Homo sapiens: one gene and its partner. The protein of the gene in region 2 purifies or fractionates together with the protein of the main gene of each other region. This does not show direct contact. Each region holds a gene or a part of one and is shown on either strand. Other genes may lie near its edges.

What was found. The genes of interacting proteins can lie anywhere in the genome.
Region 1: the proteins of ETNPPL (region 2) and LIPG purify together in Homo sapiens (affinity purification with mass spectrometry; one large-scale study listed by BioGRID and IntAct). This does not show direct contact.

Annotation. Positions count from the first base shown.
Region 1 is NC_000018.10:49,571,142-49,575,556, forward strand, and holds part of LIPG (endothelial lipase isoform 1 precursor), read left to right. Parts: intron 1-4,115; coding exon of another isoform or gene 4,116-4,192; exon of another isoform or gene 4,193-4,221; intron 4,222-4,227; coding exon 4,228-4,415. UniProt on the Homo sapiens protein: Exerts both phospholipase and triglyceride lipase activities. More active as a phospholipase than a triglyceride lipase.
Region 2 is NC_000004.12:108,745,306-108,750,635, forward strand, and holds part of ETNPPL (ethanolamine-phosphate phospho-lyase), read right to left. Parts: intron 4,159-5,330; coding exon 3,933-4,158; intron 2,855-3,932; coding exon 2,700-2,854; intron 1,547-2,699; coding exon 1,457-1,546; intron 1,225-1,456; coding exon 1,094-1,224; intron 1-1,093. UniProt on the Homo sapiens protein: Catalyzes the pyridoxal-phosphate-dependent breakdown of phosphoethanolamine, converting it to ammonia, inorganic phosphate and acetaldehyde.

The DNA of each region.
Region 1 (4,415 bases), on a different chromosome or scaffold from region 2:
CATGACTGCTCATTAACCCCTTGCTGGTGCAAAGCAGTTTGACTGGAAGCCACTCGGGTTCCATTGTCTGAGCGCCTCTTCCTAGCCCCTGAATGAGAGGTGTGATGTTTCAGATCCAGGCACCTGAGTTCAAATTGTAGCACACACCACAGTCCAGGCCCAGAATGTCAGTAACGATGACAAACTGCACATCTTGCCTTTCTCTATTTCTAAATCTGAAATGAGATGGGGCTAGGGAGGGAACTTTCCAGTTCTTTCCCCCTGCCTGTTTGAGTGGCATCTGCTGGGGTGAGGGCTTTTCTCCTGAGGGTGGCAGGAGAGCCAGGCAGAATGCTAATTAGTGCTCTGGGATGTTTGCATGGAGCATGATGCCCACATGCCCTGAGCATGGTCCCTTCCCTCTGGCCTTTCTCTGTAGAGAAGGGGCCTGGCCTCTGTCCAGTTGCCAAGCAGCACCCCTGACACACGCTGTTGTGTATGTCTGATGGGGGAGGCTGCGTCCTCTCCTTTCCCCTTGGTAGACTTCTCATGGACCTGTGGACAAGGTGATCGCAACTGGTAAGAGGACAGATTGAGACTTGCATGGGGTCCTGCGTCCAGTGATGCCACTATGCTAAGGCCACCAGGCAGTCCTTAGCCTGGGCCTTGCAAGGGTATATCTGAACCCCAATCTTGCTTGGACCAGAGGGTGTGGATGGGGGTTTGCTAGAGTTTTACTTTCTTAGGCTTCTGAGAGAAGCCTGTGATACTAGGAAAGAGGTCATATATTTATAGTTGAACCTGTGCCTTGTTTGCTATAATCAGGTAAGCAAGCAGATGAATTTATTCAAGAAATGTGTCCATATGTGCAGGCTAGATGCTAGCTAATGTCAAATACCTCATGTGTGGCCGGGCGTGGCCGGGCGCAGTGGCTCACGCCTGTAACCCCAGCACTTTGGGAGGCCGAGGTGGGTGGATCACCTGAGGTCAGGAGTTCAAGACCAGCCTGGCCAACATGATGAAACCCCATGTCTACTAAAAGTACAAAAATTAGCCGGGCATGGTGGTGGGTGCCTGTAATCCCAGCTACTCAGGAGGCTGAAGCAGGAGAATCTCTTGAACCCAGGATGCGGAGGTTGCAGTGGGCTGAGATTGCGCCACTGCACTCCAGGCTGGGTGACAAGAGTGAGACTCTGTCTCAAAAATAAAAAATAAAAAATAAAAAACAAACAAACAAAAAACACCTCATATATGACAGCTACTCTATGCTATCTCTGAACCACATAGCAACCCTGAACATTCTACGGAGGGGGAAACTAGGACTCAGTGATTAAGTAAAGGGCCCAATATCCTGGGCCCTATAAGTAGCAGAGCTGGGACTCAAACCCATGCTGTCAGATTCCAGATCCCATGCACCTCACTGCTGTGCCATGCTGCCTCTCTTCTGTGGACAGAGATAAAGTAGCCAGGCATGGTAGTGCATGCCTGTAATCCTAGCTACTCGGGATGCTGAGGTGGGAGAATCACCTGAGCCCAGGAGGTGGAGGTTGCAGAGAGCCGAGACTGGGCCACTGCACTCCAGCCTGGGCAACAGAGTGAGACCCTGTCTTAAAAAAAAAAAAAAAAAAAAAAGTAGCCGTTGAACTACAGCAGGCCCTGCCCTGCCGGGCCAGAATGCACAGCCCTGGAAGTTTTACATGTGTGCATGTGTGTGTGCTCCATTTGCTGGACAAAGCAACTTTGGAGGAGTCTATGACTGAATGGAAGAAGCGGCGGAGGTTCTCTATCTCCTCTTTATTTAAGGAGGCAGTTCTCCCTGTCATTCATCCCTAGTTAAAAAAGTTAAATGTGCCACTGTACCCCTGAATCTGTGGGCCACAGATATGTGTCAGGGACAGTCAGAGCAGGGCAGGCAGGCTCTGGCTGGGTAGGTGAAGGCCCAGCCTTGCCTGCCAGCCAGCCTGTGAAACCCCATCAGCTGCCTGCATTCCTCCAGCACAGCCTGGTTTCCATGGCACTGACCGTCTGGTGGGGACCTTTGTTCACACCAAGTAAAGAGCCTCTCTCTTGTATTGATTGCAAAGCAGAATGTTGCTCTCTTTCTCTTTCCTCCAGGGGACATGGTGAGAGGCAGGGAGAGGCCGCTGTGTCAGTACTGCGGTCCTTGCGGCCTCTGAAATGGGTTGTCGTGGGCTGTTCTGGGAGCACACTGCTTTTGTGCCATCTTTCTTTTGGGTCCTGGGCTAGGGATAAACTCTCAAGCAGCCTGGGCTCCCTTTCTGTCTTGGTTGCACATAAAGTTATCTAAATTTGGCTGGGTGCAGTGGCTTATGCCTGTAATCCCAGCTACTCAGGAGGCTGAGGCAGGAGAATCGCTTGAACCCAGGAGGCGGAGGCTGCAGTGAGCCGAGATCGTGCCACTGCACTCCAGCCTGGGTGACAGAGCAAGATTCCAACTCAAAAAAAAAAAAAGAAAAAAAAGTTATCTAAATTTTTGGAAACTATTTAGCGTTTCAGCCTCTACCAGTTCTCATATGAGTAATGAGTTCTGCAAGTTGACCGTCCACTCTAGACGGTAGCTCTGCCTCTTGTTTATCCTGAAACTACCATCTCAAGTCTCCTGATAGGCTCCCTGGTTCTAATGTGCTGTGGTCTGGTGAACACGGTCGTTAACCATGTCCTCCTTTCAGGACTCTTGTTGGTCACATCTCCTCCCAGCCTTGGTGTTTCGAGGCCAGGTTTTCTCAGCCTAGGCAATATTGACATTTGGGGCCAGGTAAGGTTTTGGTGTGGGGTGTGTGTGTGTTGGGATTGACTTGTGCACTGTAGAATGTTTAGCTGTATTCCTGGCCTGGCCCTGCTAGATGCTAGCAACTCTCTCCATCAGAATGGGGGCAATAAAAAGGTCTCCAGGAATTTCCAGATGTCCCCTGGGGGGCAAAGCCACTTGTAGTGGTGAACCACTGTTCCAGCGGCCCTTCCTTCCTGGCACATTTCATCCCTTAACTTTCTCCAGGTCCTTCCTGTGTGTCTGTGGGGCAAAGAGCTGTTCTGGTTGGGATAAATCTGGTTCCCATAATCACTTGGGCTTGGTAATAGTAGCTAATACTGACAGGCACTCAGTCTCTTAAGATCTCACGTGGACTTTGAATTAAGGTATAAATTCAGGTTCCATTTTATAAATGATAATGAAACACAGGGAAGTTTTTCAATATTTGGCCCACAGAATACCTACTTTTAGGATCATCCGGGGAATAAATATCTATTTCTATGTGCCATAATTCATATCTACCCACTAGGAGTTCAGGCACTTGGGAATCTGCATTTTATACTTTGCAAGTTCTCTTTTGGAATGGTTTTACATTAATGCAGTTTTCAAATCAAAAGATGGTGAAAGTCTCTCTTACTGCTCTGCTACCTGTCCGTTTCCCTTACCCACTCTCTCCCCCAACGCACACGCATACAGGTAACTAGTTGCTTGTGTGTCCTTCCAGATTTTTTTGTAGCTGTATGGTGGAATTTAAATTTAACAAGCTCCCAATTTCAAATATGAGAACCAGTGCTCTCAACAGTGCTGCTTGCCTGCTCAACACAAAATGTTTGGAGGCGGAAAGGTTTTCTCACGGTGGCTGCAAAATAGAGGAATTCTGGAGGCCTGATGTATGGATTCTCAGTGTATTGGGTGTCCTCTTCTCTCTCACCATTCCACCCCTGGGCCTGATTAAAGGAAGAAGAATAAATTCAGATACAAATAGCTCCGTTTGGGGAGACTGGATTCTCCTTCCAGAAGGATGTAGGCAGCTTAGTTATTCTGTAAAAATTCTGCTACAATTAAGGACATGAAAGATGCTCAGTGGCAGAATGAATGGGACAAATGGCTTAGTTTCAGGCAGTCTGAGTTCTTTCTAGAACTGCTTCAGTTTTAACAGGAGCAGTTCCTTGGAGCTGTGTGGCAGCGAAACTTGTGGCTAGTTGACGGGGTTTGGCTGAGGTGACGGGATACATGAAGGCTTCAGAAGAAAGTATAAATTCCATAACAGTAGGATTTAATTTCTGCAATGATGTCTTGGGGTCAACTGCATATGGAAATGGGTTTCTTATTTTCTTCCATGCTTTCCATGTCTTGATTCTCCCAGCTGGTCTCAGAAGTCATCTTCATTCTGCACACTCAGACTTAACTTGTAATCAGGACTCACTGACCAGGTGCACCTGACACCACAGCTGTTTTGGGGCCTCCTTCTGCTGCAGGTTTGGATCCTGCCGGGCCCATGTTTGAAGGGGCCGACATCCACAAGAGGCTCTCTCCGGACGATGCAGATTTTGTGGATGTCCTCCACACCTACACGCGTTCCTTCGGCTTGAGCATTGGTATTCAGATGCCTGTGGGCCACATTGACATCTACCCCAATGGGGGTGACTTCCAGCCAGGCTGTGGA
Region 2 (5,330 bases):
AAAAATTAAGGCCGGGTGCAGTGGCTCATGCATGTAATCTCAGCACTTTGGGAGGCTGAGGTGAGCAGATCACGAGGTCGGGAGTTCGAGACCAGCCTGGCCCACATGGTGAAACCTGTCTCCACTAAAAATACAAACATTAGCTGGGTGTGGTGGCATGCTCCTGTAGTCCCAGCTACTCAGGTGGCTGAGACAGGAGAATTGCTTGAATCTGGGAGGCGGAGGTTGCAGTGAGCCGAGATCCCACCACTGCACTCCAGCCTGGGTGACACAGCAAGACTCTGTCTCAGAAAATAAATAAATAAATAAAAATTTAAAAATAAAAGTTAAAAATGCAAAGTTAGGCTGGACGCGGTGACTTACGTCTATAATCCTAGCACTTTGGGAGGTCGAGGTGGGTGGATCACCTGAGGTCAGGAATTCGATACCAGCCTGGCCAACATAGTGAAACCCCATCTCTACTAAAAATGCAGAAATTAGCCCGGCATGGTGGCGGGTGCCTGTAATCCCGGATACCTGGGAGGCTGAGGCAGGAGAATCGCTGAAACCCGGGAGGCGGAGGCTGCAGTGAGCCGAGATCACAGCACTACACTCCAGCCTGGATGACAGAGTGAGACTCCATCTCAAAAAAAAAAAAAAAAAAAACCACGCAAAGTTAAGCAATTCAGCATATAGCAAAGAACTGTCACACTGTAGCCTATATAATTTTTTTATTAGAAATGTTTCATGTATTAATCACACAATGCTGAAATACTATATACTGTAGTATTTGTGGTCCATGGCACAATGCAGACATGCACTTTTAAATATGCTAGTCTAAAGTAAAAATAAATGACAAAACTATGTTCTTTCAGCAAAAACTTATATTTGGAGTTATATGAATACAAACTGAAAATTTCAATTTAAGAGTCCATGTAGTTACTTTTCAGCTATCTTTTTCTAGTCCTAAATGGAAAGTTACACATTTATTTCTGCCCTGCCTCACTTCCATCATGAATAACAAGATGCATATGCTCATTATGACTAGACCAGGGTTTGAGGGGTGGGTTTGGGAGAGGGAACAAGAAGACATCTTAAAGATCCATGGACCCACCTGTTAGAATCCTATCAAGTTGGTCCACCATGAACTTTGCATCTTCTTCAGTGAAGCACATAGGTGGTTTTATTTTAAGTACATTTCTATGAGGTCCATCGGCACTGAGAAGCACTCGTTTTTCTTTCATCCTAATTTGTGTAGGAAATACATGTGAGTGTATGCAAAGGATAACTACGATTACTGAAGAATTATGTGAACATAGAGCAGTTTAAGTATTCTGCATTTAAGAAGCCCACATTATAAATAGGATGTATTTAAACTTTCCTTTTTCAGAGGGATGGGAGGAAGTCAAGCAAGCTTTCAAGTGGGTAGGCATCCTGCAGCCAAGATACCAAACAGGTGGGTGTGGGGGTGAATTACTTGTAGATGATGTGCTGAGCTTCAGCTGTGGCAGGGGTCCTTTTCAGATGGTCCTTCACTAAATCAATTCCAATAAAAAGGCCAATGCCCCTGCGAGAGGTGAAGAAAAACTTGACCCACAATCTGTCCAACTCTTCACTGTCACAAAAAGTTAACACTATCACCAAACTTCCATTTAATTTCCAAGTTTAATTCTAACTAAATCAAGATACCAATCTATGTTCACAGTTGTTTCTACTTTTGGAAATAAATTAGTTTTTGTCATCCAGTTTTCTTTTCTCAATTATAAAAGAAAATGGCTTAAAAACAACCCTTTCATGCTATTTAGTTTCTCAGGATGTTAATGATGATAAATGTTAACATTATATATATATATATATATATATAATATATATATATATATTATATATATATATATAATATATATATATATTATATATATATATAATATATATATATATATTATATATATATATATAATATATATATATATTATATATATATATGTCAGTATTTCATACATATATATGAAAAATATCCAGCTTTTCAGAATAGCATTTTAAATAATTTTCAATAAATTATTTAGAGCTACATTAAGTTCCTTCTTTTCATCTTTTGGGTGCTGACATTATCCTAACTTTATTAAAAAAGTATAAAAGCCAGGAAAGACATATACCCAAATGTTTTTTTATTGTTGTTGGTTTATTTATTTATTTTATAGAAACAAGGTTTCTTGTTATGTTGCCCAGGCTGGTCTCAAACTCCTGGGCTCAAGCAATATTCCTGCCTCTGCCTCCCAAGGTGCTGGGATTACAGATGTGAACCACCACATCCGGCCCCACCCAAATGTTAACAGTGGTGATATCTGGATTCTGGAATAAGAATAATTTTTGCTATCTCTCTTTTTTGGTGTTTTCCAGATTTAGTTTTATGTACTTTATTATAAACTTACAAGATAAAATATAAACTATTATTATTATTGTTAGAGACGGGATTTCACCCTATCACCCAGGCTGGAATGCAGTGGCACAATCTCGGCTCACTGCAACCTCTGCCTCCCAGGCTCAAGTGATTCTCATGCCTCAGCCTCCCGAGTAGCTGGGACTATTTGTGTGTGCCACCACACCTGGCTAATTTTTTGTAGTTTTAATAGAGACGGGGTCTCACCATGTTGCCCAGCCTATAAACTATTATTATTTTGAAAAAAATGAGTAACTACATGACAACTTCATAATGAACATACCTAATATCTCCTATCAAAGTGTGTTTAGCCTTCTGTTTTTTCAGTAACTCAGTGAGATAATTCCCTACTCTCTTGGCATTTCCTTGAAGGTCTTCATTTTCAATTATATCCAGGACAGCCAAACCAACAGCACAAGATACTGGATTTCCTCCATACTGTAAAAAAAAAAAAGACAAATGAGAAAATATACCAGTTGAATGAGTGGTATTCCCTCATCCATGAGAAATTTGGCTCATACATACATAAGTGAAGATATAATTTAAATAAAATGTTCTCTTATAATATTAGTTTCTCATATTTAGAATAGAGCATGATTCTATATATTCAGGACTGAGTGAAAATTCATTCTAAATTATATTATCCAAGCTGCATAACTGGTATGAAGGACTACCAGTGATTTTATTTGCTCATCCAAACAAAAGCAGACATTATGTTGGGAGTTCAGGATTTCATAGTGTTGCCCAGTGAGGGAAATAGGGGTTTCTGCCCTTGAAGAGCTGAGTAAAAGTAGCTAAGCAATGACATTTTCCCCAAGCAATTTATGTCCTCAGATTTGAATCTTACTTTTAGCTGTAACAAGTCGTATTATATATACTGAACAAACTACAATAATTTTTCCAAGCTTAAAGCTTATGGGGATAAGTCAAAAAAATATAATATCCCAAAGATAAAAATTTAGTATCTCTTATGACAGCTGTATAACATTTATAGTACTGAGTCATAAAAATACTTTAAAAGTGTTTTGGAAATTTAAGTATGATATGAAACAAAGAAATGAAAATATCATAACCTGTAGAATTTAGCAGGGCAACCATCTATCATTGGAAAAATTAATAAGCCTGTTTTAGGACAGGTAAAGATACACAAGCAGAAATACAAGGAGCATTTTGTCAGACAGAATAAAATCTGGTTAGATAAAAGTTTGGCCATATCTAATGCATGTGGGACTTAAAATCTAGATGACGGGTTGATAGGTGCAGCAAACCACCATGGCACATGTATACCTATGTAACAAACCTGCACATTCTACTCATGTATCCCAGAACTTAAAGTATAATTTTATATATATATGTAAGTATTTAAGATGTTTTATTAAAATAAGAAAAAACTTTGGCCAGAGTTCTGGGTGGTTAGCCGGCAATACTGAGCTTTATTCTTTACTACATTGGCAAAAAATATAAGAACATGCATTATTTTTCCTTCTTAGCATTAAAGTTGGAGACCAAAATGTACCGTATTAAAATATTCCATCCCAGAGCTGCTGAAGGCTTCTGCAATTTCTTTGGTTGTTACCACACATGCCACCGGGTGGCCGTTGCCCATCGGTTTTCCCATTGTGACGATGTCTGGAACAAAGTCTTCACCATACATCTGGAAGCTCCAGAAATGTTTCCCAACTCTGCCAAAGCCCACTTGAACTTCATCAGCTATAAACACACCCCCTGCACCGTGTACATATCTGAAAAGCAAAGCGGCAGTCTAATGCCTTCAGGTCACTGAGATCCCCAAACCCACCCACAAAGATGCAAATTATTGAAGACAAAAAAAAAAAGTTGTTAACCTGAAGCCTTAATTTTTCTTAAAAAACATTTCAGTACTCTAAACCCCACATAAATGTCATTGACTTTACAATATAATCACATAATTTTTAGATTAGATATATTCCATACCAGTTGGGTTTGTGCTACTTAAAGTAAGCTATATTGCAGTATTTTTTTTTAAGAGATGGGGTCTCACTCTGTTGCCCAGGCTGGAGTGCAGTGGTATGATCAAACTCCCTGTAACCTCAAACTCCTGGGCTCAAGCCATCCTCCCACCTCAGCCTCCCCAGTAGCTGGAACTACAAACGTGTGCCACCATGCCCAGATAATATTTTTAAAAAGGTTTTGTAGAGAGGGGGGTCTTGCTATGTTGCCCAGCTGGTATTGAATTCCTGGCCTCAGGTGATCCTTCTGCTTTGGCCTCCCAAAGTGCTGGGATTATAGTGCATGAGCCACAGCACCCAGTCCTATTACCATATTACCTTTTAAGTGGGAAGAGAAAGAATCAAACAAGTAGTTGTTAACAGGGTTAGTCTTCAAATATTTACTAATTGGGAAGGCTTGTGTAATGGTTAATACTGAGTGTCAACTGGATTGAATTGAAGGACACAAAGTATTAATCCTGGGTTCCTGGGTATGTCTGTGAGGGTGTTCCCAAAAGAGATTAACATTTGAGTCAGTGGGCTGGGGAAAGCAGATCCATGCTTAATCTGGTGGGCACAATCTAATCAGCTGCCAGCGAATATAAAGCAGGCAGAAAAATGTGAAGAGGAGAGACTGGCCTAGCCTCCCAGCCTACATCTTTCTCCCATGCTGGATGCTTCCTGCCCTCAAACATCAGACTCCAGGTTCTTCAGTTTTGGGACTTAAACTGGTTGTCCTTGCTCCCCACCTTGCAGACAGCCTATTGTGGGACATTGTGATCATGTAAGTTAATACTTAATACCGCCGTGTGTGTGTGTGTGTGTGTGTGTGTGTGTATGATATGTGATATATATACGATATATATGATATGTGATATATATACAATATATATGATATGTGATATATCATATATGATATATATAGGATATATATATATCCTATTAGT